3 separate regions of the Homo sapiens genome follow, and regions 1 and 2 are each linked to region 3. Evidence: fine-mapped expression QTL. A gene starts in region 3. Each other region holds a variant in brackets. All regions are shown on one strand. Distances are between the middles of the regions. Region 1 overlaps LRRC56 (leucine rich repeat containing 56). Region 2 holds the start of SIGIRR (single Ig and TIR domain containing). Region 3 holds the start of PTDSS2 (phosphatidylserine synthase 2).

Region 1 (4,705 bases), 100 kb after region 3:
ACAGTGGGAACAGGGTGGGCCCGGCAGGAAGCAACCTGTCCCTGCACACATCAAGCCGCCCTGACCCACCGCCACCTCCAGCAGCTGGTCCCCACAAAAGCTGCCAGCTCAGCACGGGGTCAGCCTCCAGCGAAGCCCCCCACATCGGTGTCCAGGGGCTCAGGCTCCCAGGCAGCACTCCAGACCCTTACTCCAAATTCGAGTGCCCCAAACGCTACTGAGGAGACAATTAGAAAGAGAAAGGTGATGCCTGCAGCCTGCCAGGGAGGGGACTGAGCCACCCACTATGAGGGCAGCGCCTTGGGCACAGCTGAGCCACCGGTCACGAGGGCAGCTCCCCAAGCCAGGCCCTCCAGGGCTTGGAGAAGGTGGGGGACACTGTACCCACACCAGAGCCAGAAGGCCAAGGCAGAGAGCCCCTTCCTCAGTCTAGAGGCCACCATAGGTGGTCACACCTGCCCCTACCCCTGAAGACAGCCAAAGGCAGGTGGTGGCTGAGCACAGGGCTGGGCACATGTTGACCACCAAACCCTGCCTTCTGCAGGGACTTGGGCACGTCTCTGGGCCACCTGCAGGTGCTGTGGCTGGCTCGCTGTGGCCTCGCTGACCTGGATGGCATCGCCTCTTTGCCAGCACTTAAGGTGAGTCTGGGCACCCTGGGCTGGGGAGGCCTGGGCTGGGCCGGGCCCTGGCTCAGAGCCCCGCGCTGCCCAGGAACTCTACGCCTCCTACAACAACATCTCGGACCTGAGCCCACTGTGCCTGCTGGAACAATTGGAGGTGCTGGACCTGGAGGGCAACAGCGTGGAGGACCTGGGGCAGGTGCGCTACTTGCAGCTGTGCCCACGCCTGGCCATGCTCACCCTGGAGGGCAACCTGGTGTGCCTACAGCCGGCCCCTGGCCCCACCAACAAGGTGCGTGTCCCGGGCACCCGGCCAGCATGTGCATGGCCAGGAGAGGCTCCCTGTGGCTCCAGCCCCGGGGCCCCTCCTCTGGCCAGGTACTTCTGTGCCCACCCGCACCCTATGGCCTGCTCACCATGAGTTCACCTCCTCTGTCACTGGAAGTCTGACGGCTCCCAGGACACCCTCCTGGACCAGCCCCGCTAGATCCCACAGGGTCACCTGCACACACGCCATGTCCCTTAACCCACATATGCACCTGTGAGGTCCACACATAAGCCACGTGGAAACACAAAGAACCACGTGTACACGGATGTGTGCACACACACACCTGTGTACGCCCTGTCCAGAGCCACCTCCAGCCCCACAGGCCCCACAGACCACCCTATGCAGTATCTCGGGGCTCTGCGTGCCCTGCTCAGAGCTGGCACACCTGTGCGTGCAGGCCCTGGCGTAGCTCACAGACCCTACACAGGGCACATCTGCCCTGAGCTCACAGTGCTAGCCTCATTAGCTGCTGCTTGGTGCTGCCACATGCTGAGGTCAGCGTCTACCAGTGCCCAGTAGCTACTGCTCCGTGGGCCAGAGCCCTGAGCTGAGGGCAGTTCCATGGGCCAGAGGGCATCCCTGGACCCGGCCTTGGGTCTGGAGAGTGGGGTCCTACATCCTGAGCAGGTGAGAGCCCAGTCCCTCAGTCCCTGGGGTGTGAGAGTGACCCAAGCCCACCCCTGCAGGGTAGGCAGCATCCCCACCTCTGGGCCCCTGCCCTGCCCCACGGTGGGTCTGGGAAAGGGAGCCAGGGAAAGAGCTGGCCGGAAGGAAACACTGGACCCAGACCTGCCCTCCCTCCCCCTCCCCCTCCCCCTGCAGGTGCCCAGGGGCTACAACTACAGGGCAGAGGTGAGGAAGCTCATTCCCCAGCTGCAGGTCCTGGACGAAGTGCCGGCCGCACACACAGGCCCACCGGCCCCCCCGCGGCTGAGCCAGGACTGGCTTGCGGTGAAGGAGGCCATCAAGAAGGGCAACGGCCTTCCCCCGCTGGGTACGGCAGCTGCGCCCGGAGGACCCACTGCTGAGCCCCAGCTCCCCCCAGGAAGAGGCCCCCACCCCAGGCTTCTCAGAAACGGATAGCCACATCTCATGC[G/A]CTTCTCCAGCCTTGACCCCGGTCCCCAGAGCTGTGCACACCCGGCCCCAGGCCAGGACACTGTCTCTGAGCAGCCCACAGAGGGAGAGGAAGGTCTGAAGATGAGGGCCTCTCTAGAAGGCTGCAGCGTGAGAGGCCAGCCTCAGGCCATGCAGCATGGGGATTGGGGCCCCTGGTCTGTGGACAGAGTCTGGGGGGCGCTCTCAGGCTGGGCCTTGGTGACCTCTGCTTCTGAACCTCGGGCAGACTGTCCCCGTGGAGCCCCCATCCGGAGACTTGACCCCGAGCTGTCCCTGCCTGAGACGCAGTCCCGGGCCTCCAGGCCCTGGCCCTTCTCCCTGCTGGTCCGTGGGGGCCCCCTGCCTGAAGGCCTGCTTTCTGAGGACCTGGCCCCAGAAGATAACACCAGCAGCCTCACCCATGGTAACTGACTTGCCTCAAAGCTGACCCTGCAGCCCCTCGGCCCCGAACCAGGCCCAGCCATGCTGTCTCTTGCAGGTGCTGGCCAAGTCCTCTGTGGGAACCCCACCAAGGGCCTGCGGGAGCGTAGGCACCAGTGCCAGGTACAGCCCACAGGGACCAGCCCCCCACGAGAACCAGTGTCCAGGGTTGCGGCCCTGACAGTGCCCTGCCCTGCCGCCATTCCAGGGCCAGAATCCCTAAAGCAGTCCCTTTTCCTCCCCAGGCCAGGGAGCCCCCCGAGCAGCTGCCCCAACACAGGCCAGGAGATCCGGCCGCCAGCACTTCCACCCCAGAGCCTGACCCTGCAGACAGCTCTGACTTCCTGGCCTTGGCTGGGCTCAGGGCCTGGAGGGAACATGGCGTGCGGTGGGTGTCCCTCCAGCTCTTCCACTGGGTGTGTCCTGTCCCGTGGGGAAATCAGGGCTGGGGCTACCTTGGCTGAGTCATCCCCAGTCCCAAGGCTCGTGGACCATCCCTGCATGTCCTGTCCCGTGGGGGGATCAGGGCTGGGGCTACCTTGGCTGAGTCATCGCTGGTCCCAAGGCTCGTGGACCATCCCTGTGTGTCCTGTCCCGTGGGGGGATCAGGGCTGGGGCTACCTTGGCTGAGTCATCCCCAGTCCCAAGGCTCATGGACCATCCCTATGTGTCCTGTCCCGTGGGGGGATCAGGGCTGGAGCTTCTCCTCCTCTCCCCACCCTAGCCCCCTCCCCTATAGGCACCCGGAGTCCCAACAGGAAGGGGCTGTAGCCCCCTGGGGCCCACGGAGGGTCCCTGAAGAGCAAGTGCACCAGGCAGAGCCCAAGACTCCCTCCAGCCCCCCAAGCCTGGCCTCAGGTACTGAGCCTGCCCGCCTGCCCCCCAGTGCCTGGGAGTGACCAACACCCCACTTCTATAGGGGGGCCCTTACCCCAGATCAGATGTGTCAACCTGGCCCTGCTTCCTCAGCCATGCTCTGAGAGGGACTGTAACAGGGAGGCCCCCTTCTGGGGGTGGGGGGCTCACGACCAAGGGAGGCCCAACCCAAGTCCTCTCCCAAGCCACGGTCCAATCCCTGTGACCTTGTGTGCCACCCGGGCTGGACGAAAGAGAGGCGTTCCACAAAAGGGGGTATGAACAGAGTCCAGAGGAGTCGGGACAGAAAGAAGGAGCCACCCCAGGGCACCAGCAGGCAGAACATGGCCACTGGGCAGCTTTCAGGGACACAGGCATGAGTCCGGGGGCTGGGAGGAAAGGCGGCCAGCAGCCCCACTGGGAGACCAAGGCAGGAGGGTGCTGCCGCTTCACCCTGAAGATGGCACGCGCACTTGGGGACATAGAATTAAGCCATGCAGTGCCCTTTACGAAGGACACTGACTTCAGTGTGATCACAGCTGCAAAGCAGAGAGGACCCTCCCTCAGCGGGCAGGCAGGCCGGGCAGGGGGCAGTGTAAGCAGGGGCGACCCCACGGTGGGCAGCTGACCCTCCTCTGTGCAGGAGCCTGGTTAAGGGGGCTGGGATGGGCAGGGAACAGGGCAGGCCAAGCCTCTGCTCTTCCATATGGTGGTGGGTGTCTGTGGAGGGGGCAGACAGAGGGGTCAACAGCTGGTTACCTAGTGGCCGTGACCTGCAGGGGTGGAGGGAGGGCAGGCAGGGCGGCCAGGAGGAGGGGAGCTGCAGTGGCCTCAGGGCAGGGTCAGGACAAAGGCATGCCAGGGCTCCAGACACCGGTGGAGGCGGGTGCTGGGGGACCCAAGGCTTGGGAACCGGCCCGGGGCGGTCAGCCAGTGAACAGGCTCTCAGGGTCAGGACACAGATGACCGAGGGTCAGAGCCAGGCCTTGTGGTCTCCTTCTCAGGGACAGGACACAGAGGACCCAGGGCCAGAACCAGGCTTCGTGGCCTCCTTGCCTGCCCCAGAGGTGGGCCCGCCCATGCGAGTCAGGGGTCACAGGGCTGGGAACACAGAAAGTGGGGTGCAGGGGTGCTGCTGCCTGTGGACCCCCAAGGACCACTGCCTCGGGGCTGCAGGGCCACGGGTGGGCTGTGGCCTCCCCACCGGGTGACTCCCTTCCCTGACAGCCTTTCTGACGTCCCATCACTCTGCTTGCTTTCTAGAGCCCTCCGGGACCTCGAGCCAGCACCTGGTCCCTTCACCTCCCAAGCACCCAAGGCCACGAGATTCTGGCAGCAGCTCCCCGCGGTGGTCGACAGACCT
Region 2 (6,803 bases), 36 kb before region 3:
TGACGGCCCCAGGGTGCAGTGGACGAACACTAGGTGGGACCCTGTCTCCCGACATGGCAGTTGGCCTCACTCCTGGCTGTCCCCTTCAACAGAGCTGCCACTGCAGGGGGTGCTGCAGTGCCAGAGACACAGCCTGGCCTTGGGGCAGGGGTGTGAGTGATGTAACCTACACCATGGGAGATGCCCAGCTCTGACCATGTCTGGATACAGTCGGTGGGGGGTGCTCAGCTCTGACCATGTCTGGATGCAGTTGGGGTGGGGGTGCCCAGCTCTGACCATGTCTGGATACAGTCGGCGGGGGGCTTTGCTTAGCTCTGACCATGTCTGGATGCAGTCGGGGGGGGGGGGTGCCCAGCTCTGACCATGTCTGGATACAGCCGGGGGGGGTGCCCAGCTCTGACCATGTCTGGATGCAGTCAGGGAGGGGGTTGCCCAGCTCTGACCATGTCTGGATGCAGTCGGGGGGTGCCCAGCTCTGACCATGTCTGGATACAGTCGGGGGGGGGTGCCCAGCTCTGAACATGTCTGGATGCAGTCGGGGAGGGGGGTGCCCAGCTCTGACCATGTCTGGATACAGTCGGCGGGGGTGCCCAGCTCTGACCATGTCTGGATACAGTCGGGGAGGGGGGTGCCCAGCTCTGACCATGTCTGGATACAGTCGGCGGGGGTGCCCAGCTCTGACCATGTCTGGATGCAGTCGGGGAGGGGGGTGCCCAGCTCTGACCATGTCTGAATGCAGTCGGGGAGGGGGGTGCCCAGCTCTGACCATGTCTGGATGCAGTCGGGGGGTGCCCAGCTCTGACCATGTCTGGATGCAGTCGGGCGGGGGGGGTGCTCAGCTCTGACCATGTCTGGATGCAGTCGGGGAGGGGGGTGCCCAGCTCTGACCATGTCTGGATACAGTCGGGGGGGGGGGTGCCCAGCTCTGAACATGTCTGGATACAGTCGGGGAGGGGTGCTCAGCTCTGACCATGTCTGGATACAGTCGGGGGGGGGGGGTGCCCAGCTCTGACCATGTCTGGATACAGTCGGGGAGGGGTGCCCAGCTCTGACCATGTCTGGATGCAGTCGGGGGGTGCCCAGCTCTGACCATGTCTGGATACAGTCGGCGGGGGTGCCCAGCTCTGACCATGTCTGGATACAGTCGGGGAGGGGGGTGCCCAGCTCTGACCATGTCTGGATACAGTCGGGGAGGGGTGCCCAGCTCTGACCATGTCTGGATGCAGTCGGGGAGGGGGGTGCCCAGCTCTGACCATGTCTGGATGCAGTCGGGGAGGGGGGTGCCCAGCTCTGACCATGTCTGGATACAGTCGGCGGGGGGTGCCCAGCTCTGACCATGTCTGGATGCAGTCGGGGGGTGCCCAGCTCTGACCATGTCTGGATACAGTCGGTGGGGGTTGCCCAGCTCTGACCATGTCTGGATACAGTCGGTGGGGGGGGGGGGTGCCCAGCTCTGACCATGTCTGGATGCAGTCGGGGAGGGGTGCTCAGCTCTGACCATGTCTGGATGCAGTCGGGGGGTGCCCAGCTCTGACCATGTCTGGATACAGTCGGGCGGGGGGGGGGCTCAGCTCTGACCATGTCTGGATACAGTCGGGGAGGGGGGTGCCCAGCTCTGACCATGTCTGGATACAGTCGGGGGGGGGGGGTGCTCAGCTCTGACCATGTCTGGATGCAGTCGGGGAGGGGGGTGCCCAGCTCTGACCATGTCTGGATACAGTGGGGGGGGGGGGTGCCCAGCTCTGACCATGTCTGGATGCAGTCGGGGGGGGTGCCCAGCTCTGACCATGTCTGGATGCAGTCGGGGGAGGTGCCCAGCTCTGACCATGTCTGGATACAGTCGGGGGGAGGTGCCCAGCTCTGACCATGTCTGGATACAGTCGGGGGGGGGTGCCCAGCTCTGACCATGTCTGGATACAGTCGGGGAGGGGTGCCCAGCTCTGACCATGTCTGGATGCAGTCGGGGGGTGCCCAGCTCTGACCATGTCTGGATACAGTCGGGGGGGGGGTGCCCAACTCTGACCATGTCTGGATGCAGTCGGCGGGGGTGCCCAGCTCTGACCATGTCTGAATGCAGTCGGGGAGGGGGGTGCCCAGCTCTGACCATGTCTGGATGCAGTCGGGGGGTGCCCAGCTCTGACCATGTCTGGATACAGTCGGGCGGGGGGGGGTGCTCAGCTCTGACCATGTCTGGATGCAGTCGGGGGGTGCCCAGCTCTGACCATGTCTGGATACAGTCGGGGGGGGGTGCCCAGCTCTGACCATGTCTGGATACAGTCGGGGGGGGGTGCCCAGCTCTGAACATGTCTGGATACAGTCGGGGGGGGGTGCCCAGCTCTGAACATGTCTGGATACAGTCGGGGAGGGGTGCTCAGCTCTGACCATGTCTGGATACAGTCGGGGGGGGGGGGTGCCCAGCTCTAACCATGTCTGGATGCAGTCGAGGGGGGGTGCCCAGCTCTGGCCCACGTCTGGTTACAGTCAGGAGTGCACGTGAGCACAGACACCTCGAAACACCTCGGGAAACACCTCGGGAACCCTCAGCTTAGCCTCGCCCTGCGGTTGTGAGGCCGGAGGGTGAACAGCGCCCGGTGGGGATGGAGGTCTCGGGTCCCATGTCCTTTCCCAGCCCGTAGCAGCAGCCACACACACCTCAAGTCTCCCAAAGCTCCTCAGTGAGGTGGCTGCAGGGAGAAGCCCAGAGCCTCTTCCTTGGCAGCCCAGGGCCCCAGGGGCCTCTCCTCACTGGATGCCACAGGGTCACCCTGTTTATCCAACAGGCACTGACTGTCTACTCCCCTCCCTGCTGCAGGGACACAGTGGAAGTGGGGATGTGGGGATCAAGCCTAAGTTTCTGCACCCCAGCTCCCTCAGGATTCCTCCCCGCTAAGGCCCCAGAGGCAGTGGCAGGGACAGTCCTCTTAGCCTGCCACCTATTCCCTCTCCATGGGTGAAGCACAGCCAGAGGCCCCAGGTTTGACTGTTTGGCAGTTTCCTCGGGAACCGATACAGCATGAGGCACACACCCATGGGGGATGGCCAGGGGGTCCTTGAAGAAGTCCTTTGCGGTGGAGGACACTCCAAGGAAAGTCCTTGACCCAGGGGAACCACCCACTGAGGGTCCTTAAAGCACACACTTCCCAGGAAACCAACCCCTCACAGCAAGCCCGGG[A/G]GGTCACACCGCCAGCCCAGCAGAACCCCTGGCATCTCCTGCAGTGCTTCCGTGACCGCCCCAAGCTCAGACCTCAAAGTCCTCCCTCCAAAAGCAGCCTCAGAGCCTTCTGGAAGTCAAGGGCAGACTGCCAGGATACGAGCACAGCAAGAAAGCAGGTGCCCTCCCCTGCAAACCCTCCTCTGCACCCTCTCCGCTGCCTGCCTCTCCTTGCACCCTCTCCCCTGCACCCTCTCCCTGCAAACCCTCCCCTGCACCCTCTTCCCGCACCCTCTCCCCTGCTCCCTCTCCCCTACGCACCTTCCCCTGCACCCTCTCCTCTGCCTGCCTCCCCCTGCACGCTCTCCACTCCCCACCTTCCCCTGCCCACCTTCCCCTGCACCCTCTCCCCTGAACCCTCTCCTCTGCCTGCCTCCCCCTGCACCCTCTCCCCTCCCCACCTTCCCCTGCACCCTCTCTTCTGCCTGCCTCCTCCTGCACCTTCTCTCCTCCCTACCTTTCCCTGTACTCTCGTCTGCCTACCTTCCCCTGCACCCTCTCCCCTCCCCACCTTTCCCTGCACCCTCTCCCCTGCACACCTTCCCCTGCACTCTCTCCTCTGCCTACCTTCCCCTGCACCCTCTCCCTCCCCACCTTTCCCTGCACACCTTCCCCTGCACCCTCTCCTCTGCCTACCTTCCCCTGCACCCTCTCCCCTCCCCACCTTTCCCTGCACCCTCTCCCCTGCACACCTTCCCCTGCACCCTCTCCTCTGCCTACCTTCCCCTGCACCCTCTCCCCTCCCCACCTTTCCCTGCACACCTTCCCCTGCACCCTCTCCCCTGCACCCTCTCCTCTGCCTACCTTCCCCTGCACCCTCTCCCCTCCCCACCTTTCCCTGCACCCTCTCCCCTGCACACCTTTCCTTGTACCCCCTCCCCTCCCTAACTTCCCCTGCACCCTCTCCTCTGCCCCTCCTCCCCTGCACACATCACATACACACAGCCCTCTGGCCCATGTGCACCTGCACAGAGCTTCAGTCTCAGCCCGTGTGCACACTTGCACCTCCTACACAGCACACTTCCTACCACACACACCTCCCATTACCACTGCACACAGCTTAGGCTGCAGACCCCTCACACAACTGTTGAGTATATACAACACCCATTGCAACGCTTGTCACAGAGCCTAGGACCACAGGCACCCCACAGCACACACACTGCACCTGACACCCACCCTTGGCCGCTGATGCGACACAGCCTCCTGCTGCCCCTCGCTCTGTCTCACACACACATGCACACACATGCATATGGGTCTTGGGCGCCGTGGGCCTCCTCTCAGCCAGGCCCTGACACAGGCTCACTCAGAGCAGCGGGGAAGGCAGTCACCTGGTTCCAGTTCTTTCCTCCGGGGGGCAAATGTTGGTCATTGGTGCGCCTTTGGGAGCAAACTCTCCCCTTCGCTGGGCCCCAGGGAGTGTCCACAGCACCAAGGCTGCTATGGATGCATCGCCAAGCGCGGTGGGGACCTGGCTTGTGTCTTTGTGTATTTTGATCAGAACTTTCCCTGTAGCTTCCTGGCCTTGCAGTCACATCCTCTCCTAACCCTAAACCCCACCCAGGCACCCACCCCTTCCCTAGGCGGGCGGGAGGACGGGCAGTTGGTGGTTCTCACCCCGCCTGCCCCGGCTCTTCCTGTAGCTCTGAGTCAAGCGGCTCCTTCCTCTGGAGCCCGCCCCAACCCACCCAGGCACGGCACTTTCCTCTGTGCAGCGTGTGTGTGTGTGTGTGTGTGTGTGTGTGTGTGTGTGTGTGTGCAGTGTGTCTGCGTGTGTGCAATGTGTGTGCAGTATGTGCGTGTGCGTGCGTTTGTGTGTGTGCGTGTGTGTTGTGGGGTGGGGGGTGCTCAAAGGGGCAGGTTCCAGGGGTAATGCATGGGGGGTCCTCCAGCCAGGAGACCCCCGCCAGGGCCACCCTGCACACATACAAGGAGGACCGGGGACCGCGCGGCATGCCTTCCAGACGCTACTAGAGCTCACACTCAGGAGCCAAGGGGCCGGTTTGCTCCCCCATGTGTCTTTGACCTCTGACCCCGGGGAACAGGGCCTTCAGAAACTCCCGGTCAACAATGGGGCTCCAGCAGAACTCTTCCGCCCTCTCCCCGTCCCTCTCCCAGACATAGCTCCCCCGATGGGTGAGCAGTTACAAGGGACTATGGCATCTTGTGGACCTTCCCTTCAGGCTGGGGTGGGAGGGCAGCGCCCCCTTTTCCAAATAAGGAGCAAACACAGGTGGCCGAGGCTCCTGGCTCAGAGCAGATGAGGGGCAGATGGCATCTCCTGTTGTCACCAAACTGACACTCCCCAGGTTGACCTGGGACTGGGGACCCAGTGACCGGTGGCTGGTATTGCCCACAGAATCAGACAAGGGTCTCCTTTGGACCCTGGCCCTGCCCTCAGCCACATGGGGGCAGGGCTTCATTGTGGAGGGCTGCCATCCAGCCTCCCGGCCCTGGCTGAGCACCCTCTCAGCAGCAGGCTTTCTACAGGTACTTGTCTGACTGAGTCCCAGCCCTGCTAGGACCTTCCTTTGTCCCGGTACTCAGCCTTGGGTGATGGTGGGCCTTGGGCTCAGGGTCCCAAAGACAGCACCCCTTCCCCCACAGAGCCTGGTACCAGCCCCTCCTTGAAGTGGGTCCTTGGAAGCCCCTCAAGAAGGTTCTCCCCACACTGCAGGTCAGGAAGCAGGCACAGCAGGGCCCAGGGCACCCCCGCAGGAAGCAGGAGCAGGGCCTCCAGCACAGGCCCTGGGGTCAGCCGCCAACTGTGAAGCCCCGGCTCGGCGGCTGCTCTGTGCACCCGGTCTCAGCGTCACCATCTCTCAGGGCTGGCTTGGCACCCTCTCCTTCCCTCTCTCTGCTAACGTCCTGCACCCCCGAGCCCCCAGGTCCACCGTCCAGGGTGAGCATGAACACCCACAAAGTCTCCGACCCTCGCCCGCACAGCTCTTCCGAGGCGCCCAGAATCTCAGTCCAAGCCTGGCCCTGGTCGCCTCGCACTGCCCACCGCACTCTGCTGGGCACCTTGAGGTTCTTAGAAAGCGCCAGCTCCTCCCGCCCTCAGACCCAGCCAGCGTCCTCGGTCCGCGGCCGCCCCTGCCCGGTGGGTTCGACGCTCAGCACCCAGCACCCTGCGGGCGACTCCCGCTCAGCTCGGACGCGCCGCCCCTCCGCTCCCCGTGCGCGCTGGGCCCCCAGCGCCTGTCCTGAAGCAGGAACGTGGGTAAAAGGCTGCGGCCCCGCAGGCCGAGGGGCTCTGGTTCGCTCCCCTACCCCGCGCCCACCTGCGCCCTGGGCGCCCTCCAAGTGAGGAGGGCGGAGAACGAGGACGCGCGCGGGAGGCGGGCACGGGGGTGCGGCTCGGGGCGCTCGGCCGGGGCAGAGGCGCGCGGATGGCGGAAGCTCCACCCGGCGCCGGGCGAGCTCGGGCCCCAGCCTGACTCTTGGTCCGCCCTCGGCGCCTCAGGAAGCCTCGAGCTGGGATCCAGGCTTGGGCGACCGAGGTGGGATCCCTGCGCGCCTCGGCGCTCCTAGCCCCGCTCTGTTCTGCGCGAGGGTCACCAAAAAGCCGCTGACCACGTCGGGCAGAGGAAAG
Region 3 (6,803 bases):
GAGCAGTCCTGCTGTCCACGCTCCCTCCAACAAGCCAGAGAAAACTCCCGGGCACAGGTGTGCGTGTGGCACGGTGAGTTTTTCTGTAATCCACTCACCTTTATGGATTTACCGCACCAGGGGAAATATTACAACAGGCATTTGTTACTTTACAAATTCCTAGGCTTCCTCTCCCTTCCTTGCAAGGGCATTTTTAGAAAGCATTTCGCCAACATTCACTATTTACCACCATAAATGTGACTCTGGCCAGCTCTGTCCCTGGGTAAGGCCAGAATTGACCATTTTCTTAAAAGTTCCAGCGCCCTGAGGCTTCTGGCAGGCATCTCTGCAGCTGAGGAAGGCTTCTGTCCCGTGCACCCTTCCCCAGGCGGGGGACCCCCAGTTCTGCTGCTCTGGGGCCTCAAAGAACCAAGTCCTCCAAGCTGCTCCACTGCCTCCTCACCAGCCACGGTGCTCCCTGAGCCACAAACCTCCGGCCTCACCCCTGCCCCTCAGGCCCACGTCTTGCAATGGACTCTGCCAGTCCACACATGCCTGGGTGGGGAGGGGTGTGCACTTCTGCAGCTGGGGTGAAGACAGGGACAGGGTAATGTGAGACTCAGATATGAGACGCCAGGTGCAAAACTGCAGGTGGAGAGCTCCCTGTAGAGTGCAGGGGTTCAGGGTAGAGGCTCTGGGGTCTGGAAAGAGCTGGGCGTAGCTGTCACCAACCTTTCTCTGCCTCAGTTTTTTTTTTGTTTGTTTCTTTTTTTTTTTTTTTTTTTTTTTTTGAGACGGAGTCTTGCTCTGTCACCCAGGCTGGAGTGCAGTGGCGTGATCTCAGCTCACTGCAAGCTCTGCCTCCCAGGTTCACACCATTCTCCTGCCTTAGCCTCCCGAGCAGCTGGGACTACAGGCGCCCGCCACCACGCCCGGGTAATTTTTTGTATTTTTAGTAGAGATGGGCTTTCACCGTGTTAGCCAGGATGGTCTCGATCTCCTGACCTTGTGATCCACCCGCCTCGGCCTCCCAATGTGCTGGGATTACAGGCTTGAGCCACCGCGCCCGGCCTTCTCTGCCACAGTTTTTTTGTCTCTAAGCGACAGTCAAAAATAGAACCTAAGGGGGTGTGTTAAGATCACAATAGTTGGCCCGGCGCGGTGGCTCACGCCTGTAATCCCAGCATTTTGGGAGGCCAAGGTGGGTGGATCACCTGAGGTCAGGAGTTCGAGACCAGCCTGGCCAACTTGGTGAAACCCCGTCTCTACTAAAAATACAAAAATTAGCCGGGCGTGATGGCGGGCGCCTTTAATCCCAGCTACTCCGGAGGCTGAGGCAGGAGAATCGCTTGAACCCGAGAGGCGGAGGTTGCAGTGAGCCGAGATCACGCCACTGCACTCCAGGCCTGGGTGACAGAGTGAGACTACGCTTAAAAAAAAAAAAATCACAATAGTTAGCATTTACAAAGCGTTGGGAATTCTACTTGGCACGTGGCCAGAGCTCCGTAGTGATGGGCAACGAACACGTGGTCTGCGCGCCCGGGGCCGCGCGGTCTGGCGGGGCCGCGCGGTCTAGATCACGCTACTCCGGGTCCCAAGGCCCCGCCCTCAGGCCCCGCCCACAGACCATGTCCTCGGCCCCGCCCCTCACGCGCCCTTGGGCCCCGCCCCCGAGCCGACAGGAACGAGCGTCATTGCGAGGCGGCCTCGCGCGCAGCTTCCTTGGGGCCAGGGACCCCAGTGGGGCCGGTACATCTCCCCGCCCCGGCCTCTGCACCCTGGAGGGACGGCAGGAGGGCTCTCTGTGCAGTTTGAGAGAACACCCATACGCAGGAAATGACCCCAACGCCACCGAGAGGGCGCCTGGAATGTGAGCGCCACCTGCTGGGATGGGAAGAGGTCTGGGAGGGGACCTGAAGGATGGTTCACAGGGAACCAGGCCTGTCGGGTGATTGCTGGAAAGATGGCATGGACGGGAGCTGGCTGCTCTGGCCACTCAGCCGACCCCAGCTGGACGCGGCCAGGGCCTGGGGCAGGGGGCCAGGCCTGGGGAGGCCCAACAGCACGCCCCCTGGAGCCAGCGCCTCCCGCACTGCCCAGCCTGTGTGTCAGGAGCTGGGGTGAAGGTCCCATCACAGTCAGGCCCCATCCCTGCTGGGCGTGGCTGTGCAGGAGCCCCGCAAATATGTTTATATATTTAGTATGTGAGTTATATTTCAATAAAGCTGATATGAGATATACTTCACATATCATGCAGTTCACCCATTCAACTCGTTTCGAGTGGACAGTTGAGTGGTTTTTAGGACATTCACAGATAGGAGCTGAGGTCAATATTACAGCACTTTCATCGCCCCGAAAGAAACCTGCTACCCTTTGTAGTCGCTCCTTATTACCCCTTCCCCAGCCCCCGGTGAAAACTCATCTAATTTCTGTCTTCATAGATTTGCATTTCCTGGACATTTCATACAAATGGATCACATAATGCGTAGTCTCCTGTGACTGGCTTCTTTCACCTAGCATTTTTTTTTTTTTTTTTGAGACGGAGTCTCGCTCTGTCGCCCAGGATGGAGTGCAGTGGCACAATCTCGGCTCACTGCAACCTCCACCTCCCGGATTTAAGGGATTCTCCCACCTCAGCCTCCCGAGTAGCTAGGATTACAAGCGCCCGCCACAATGCCAGGGCAATTTTTGTATTTTTAGTAAAGATGGGGTGTCACCACTTTGCCTAGGCTGGTCTCGAACTCCTGACCTCAAGTCATCCGCCCGCCTTGGCCTCCCAAAGTGCTGGGATGACAGGCGTGCGCCGCCGCGCCCGGCCTGCCTAGCATAATGTTTTCAAGGTCCAGCTGTGCTGTAGCATGCGCATGCTTCGCTCCTCTATGGCTAATAACATGCCGCTATTATCAAAATGCTGCAACTAGGAGCGCTAGTGTGTAAATTTGGCGTGGACACTTGTTTCCAGGTTTGAGGAGCTGCCACATTGCTTTTCAGAGTGGCTCAGGAGCTAATTTTTTTGCAGGGTACCATGTCAACAATTTGGGTCAACTAAAATCAGCGTGTCCGCACCATTTTCGCCCGCCCAATTTCACGCGATCCTGCGAAAGAATGACCCAGACCGGTCCGGGCGCGGTGGCTCGCGCCTGTAATCCCAGCACTTTGGGAGGCCGAGGCGGCAGATCACAAGGTCAGGAGTTCGAGATTGGCCTGGCCAACATAGTGAAACCCCGTCTCTACTAAAAATACAAAAATTAGCCGGGCGTGATGGCGGCCGCCTGTAATCCCAGCTACTCGGGAAGCTTGAGACAGAAGAATCGTTTGAATCCGAGAGGCGGAGGTTGCAGTGAGCCGGGATCGCGCCATTGCACTCCAGCTCGGGCGGCAGTGCGAGACTCCGTCTCAAAAAGGAATGACCCGGGTCGCATGGGGTGAAGGGTCGGGAAGCGCCCCAAAAGGAGAACGGGGCTGGGCTCCGGGATCCGTCGGCGAGGAAGGGGCGAAGGGGTGGAGGGACTCGGGCCAGGCCGCCGGGGATGTCTGTGGTTACCTCCAAGCTCTGGAGGCCTTGGCGAGACCCGCGCCATCCGCAGCTTGGTTCCTGCGACCTCAGCCGCAGGGCGGTCCGGCTCCGGTTTCCCAGCAACCAGGCGTCATCCTTCCCAGCAAGCACTGCGTCCAACCCGCGACGTCGGACCACAAGGCCCAGCATGCCCCGCGCGGACTACAAGCCCCACAATGCACCGCACACCCTTTACTGGCCGGCCCCGCGCTGCTCTCCTAAGACCCCGCGGGCCAGCGCCGCGACCCCTTCCCAGCGCTCCTCGCGCTGTGTGCGGCGCGTCCTCTCGCCGGTGACCCGGTGTGCGTGGGGTCGAGGCGCCGGGCGGAGTGGCTCCGGGCCGAAACGCCATGCGGAGGGGCGAGCGCAGGGACGCCGGAGGTCCGCGGCCCGAGTCCCCGGTGCCCGCGGGCAGGGCCTCGCTGGAGGAGCCGCCTGACGGGCCGTCTGCCGGCCAAGCCACCGGGCCGGGCGAGGGCCGCCGCAGCACCGAGTCCGAGGTCTACGACGACGGCACCAACACCTTCTTCTGGTGAGGGCAGTGGGCGGCCGCGGGGCGGCGAGGGTGCCCTCGACCTGGGGGTTCCGGCACCGCTGGCCTGGGGGTCCCCGGCAGCGCCCTCTCGCCGTCTTGGAGTCCAGGACTGTGGCCGGGGGTTTGAGGGTGTGGCAGCACCGCCCCCCGGGTCCCGGGGAGCGGCCGGACCGAGCTCCCGACGCCGGGTCGGGCGGAGGGCGGCGCTGTAGGTGGGGGAGACCCTGGGCAGACCCTCCCTGCGGCCGCTTTGCGTCTCTCTCGCCGCCCTCCCCACCCCTGCCCGCCTTGGCTCTGACCGCGCGGTTCTGCGATCCAGACCCCTTCCCCGCCACCCGCCTCCAGCGTCACCCCAGAAACGCTTTCTCTGTCCTGCTGTCGAAGCTTCACCTGTGTCCCCCGTCATTCTGCCTGTGGTTGCTCCTCAGTGCTTGCGGCTGCACGAAATCATCTTGTGTGTCGCGCCCGACCCCACGTGGCGATCGTGTTGATTAGCAGAGTGTTGTGCGTGCTTCAGGAATGTAGTCGGTGTTCGTCGAATCCAGGCTCTGTTTCTCTCCTCAGTTGCCCCTAGCGGGGCCAGCGCCTCCTCCCTGCACAACTCAGCCCTAGCTACACCTTGGGGTCCCCCTGTCCGCCACTCTGCCTTTAATGGGGGTGGAAAAGGAAGAGGCCCCCGGGAGCAGCTGGAGTGTGGCACTCTGTGTCCAGACAGGCTCCAGGTGCCGCTCCTACTCCCGACAGCTGCGACCCTGGGCTGGCCCTTTGCCGATGCTCCTCTGTGAGAAGGATCAAGCCGTCGACCTGAAAGCAGGCTTCGTGAGAGGAGGGTTTGGCTCTTCTTGACTGCAAGGTGCCCAGTTCCCATCCTGTGGAAGGCCCGGGGGCACAGGGGCAGTAGAGGTGGGGTCAGCCCCAGGAAAACGTGTGGGAGACAGGCGCCTGCGGCCAGCAGTGGAAGGAAGGCTTTATGGACGCTTCCAAGAGAACCATGCTGTGGGATGGTCGGAGAGCAAATCTGAGGGGCGAGGAGGGCCTGATGGAGGAGTAAGGGACTTGTCAGGGGAAGGCGCCACCACAGACAGGGACTTAACCGGTCCTGGCCTGTCACCGCAGCCGAAGCTCTGGAGAGAGACTGTCCAAGTGGTGGGAAAGCAGGTTAGGGTGGAGGAGGCCCCACGCAGGGTCTTCCGTGAGGTGTGGGCAGCTGCTGTTGCAGGGAGGGCATCCGAGCTCTCCTTTGGGGAGATGAGTGTACCGGGTGGCTGCGGGGCCCTCGGGAGGGAGAGGAGATGGGGTGCCTGCCACGTGGACCCTCTGGCTTCCGGGCCCTGTGGACATCAGGCCTCTCCATCAGGTGCCCTGCCACACCCCTTCAGGCTGTCCTCCCGCAGCACAGCTGGGGACCACCGGAGTCTCTGAGGTCCTGGAGCAAGGAGACCAGACTGGCTCTTCTGAGGTCCCGGAGCAAGAAGACCAGACGGGCTCCTCTGACATCCCGGAGCAAGGAGAACAGACGGGCTCCTCTGAGGTCCCGGAGCGAGGAGACCAGACTGGCTCTTCTTGTTTCTCATTTGGCCGTTCAGCACATTGTGGGGACCCCTACTGCCTGTCAGTTACCGTTCTACGGGACATAGCAGAGAACTAAACAAGAAGCTTAGATTCTGGTGCAGGCATGGAACTTCAGAAGGCTCAAAATGTGCTGGCTGGGTGCTGAGTGTGGCAGGAGCCAGGGGGCACATGCAAGCCTGCGCAGCCCACCCAGTACCAGGGAAGCAGGAGCAGCAGCCCAAAGGTAGGAGGGGGCCGGTCTCTTTAGAAGCCCAGACCAGTGGTCCCTGCCCACAAGGGGTGTTTGGGACACAGACGGCTGGGCGCAGCAGAGCTTGCCTGTCAGGAGGCCAAGGGGGTCAGGAGGGCTCTCCAGGAGCGGGTGCAGCGGGGCTGGCTGGTCCAGGTACCTCCTTCCTGGGTCTTCTGGGTGGGTGGCTCTGGCTCTGGCTTTCCCCTCGACCCTGTCCCTGTAGAGACGCATGGGGCAGGTTCTTGCTGTGCCTCCTCCCTTCCCTGTGCAGAGGAAGGAGCTTCACGCTTCTGGGTGGCAGGTAACTCAATGCCTGCCTGGTGAGAATTCATTACCTGCAGAGCCTCACACTGACCTCCTGAGTCCACCTGCACTGACTTGCTGTGCTGGCATTTTTTTAACTCTAATTTTGTGTTTTAGAGAGTTTTACTTTTTATTTTTTATTCATTTTTATTTATTTATTTATTTTTAATAGAGGGTCCCCCTGTGTTGCCCAGGCTGGTCTTCAACTCCTGGCCTCAAGTGATCCTTCCGCCTCAGCCTCCCAGATTGCTGAGATTACAGGCATGCACCACCACATCCAGCCAGGGCGTTCATTTTCAAGGATGGGTGCACTTCCTCGGGCCAGTGACGGCGGCCATGTGTGAATTTTGTTTCTCTGTGACTGCTTGTCAGCCATAGGGATAGGGCGTGCGGTTCGATTCAGGGCTTGACTGGCCCTGGGAGCACGAGGCTGAGCTCTCCTTCTCTGGATTCATTCAGGGTAGCAAGGACAATTATGGGGAACATCCAGAGGAAAACGTTTAGATCCACAGACTCCGAGAAGCCCTGTGCGAAGATGTGGCAGCTCATGCGGTCTGGAAATTGTTTGGGAGAACACTTGGGGACCCCTTACCCTGGCGAGGTGCCTGTGAACGTTGCCGCCTGTC

What was found. PIP is the estimated chance that this variant, and not a neighbour inherited with it, causes the effect. A credible set is the group of variants that fine-mapping cannot tell apart.
Region 1: its variant is the best candidate, but not a certain one, in a credible set for the expression of PTDSS2 in whole blood (TOPMed, PIP 0.55).
Region 2: its variant is the best candidate, but not a certain one, in a credible set for the expression of PTDSS2 in cerebellar hemisphere (GTEx, PIP 0.88).

What each region holds. Positions count from the first base shown.
Region 1 is chr11:549,358-554,062 of GRCh38, forward strand. It overlaps LRRC56 (leucine rich repeat containing 56), which reads left to right. Exons shown (of 14, transcript NM_198075.4): 7 at 545-641; 8 at 715-915; 9 at 1,774-1,945; 10 at 2,294-2,470; 11 at 2,546-2,610; 12 at 2,733-2,875; 13 at 3,212-3,345; 14 at 4,606-4,705. Among named protein-coding and RNA genes, the nearest start is that of LMNTD2-AS1, 7.6 kb to the right of the region's middle. RefSeq lists an enhancer at 1-426. The variant G/A (reference allele first, on the strand shown) is at 2,048.
Region 2 is chr11:410,284-417,086 of GRCh38, forward strand. SIGIRR (single Ig and TIR domain containing) reads right to left here and starts at 4,716. Exons shown (of 10, transcript NM_001135054.2): 1 at 4,540-4,716. RefSeq lists an enhancer at 5,189-5,808 and silencers at 6,329-6,398, 6,459-6,578, 6,609-6,688. The variant A/G (reference allele first, on the strand shown) is at 3,173.
Region 3 is chr11:446,571-453,373 of GRCh38, forward strand. It overlaps PTDSS2 (phosphatidylserine synthase 2), which reads left to right and starts at 3,709. Exons shown (of 12, transcript NM_030783.3): 1 at 3,709-4,067. The coding sequence starts at 3,886. RefSeq lists enhancers at 1,337-1,476, 3,209-3,895, 3,494-3,773 and silencers at 1,487-1,776, 1,867-2,176, 3,804-4,043, 4,234-4,293, 4,304-4,393.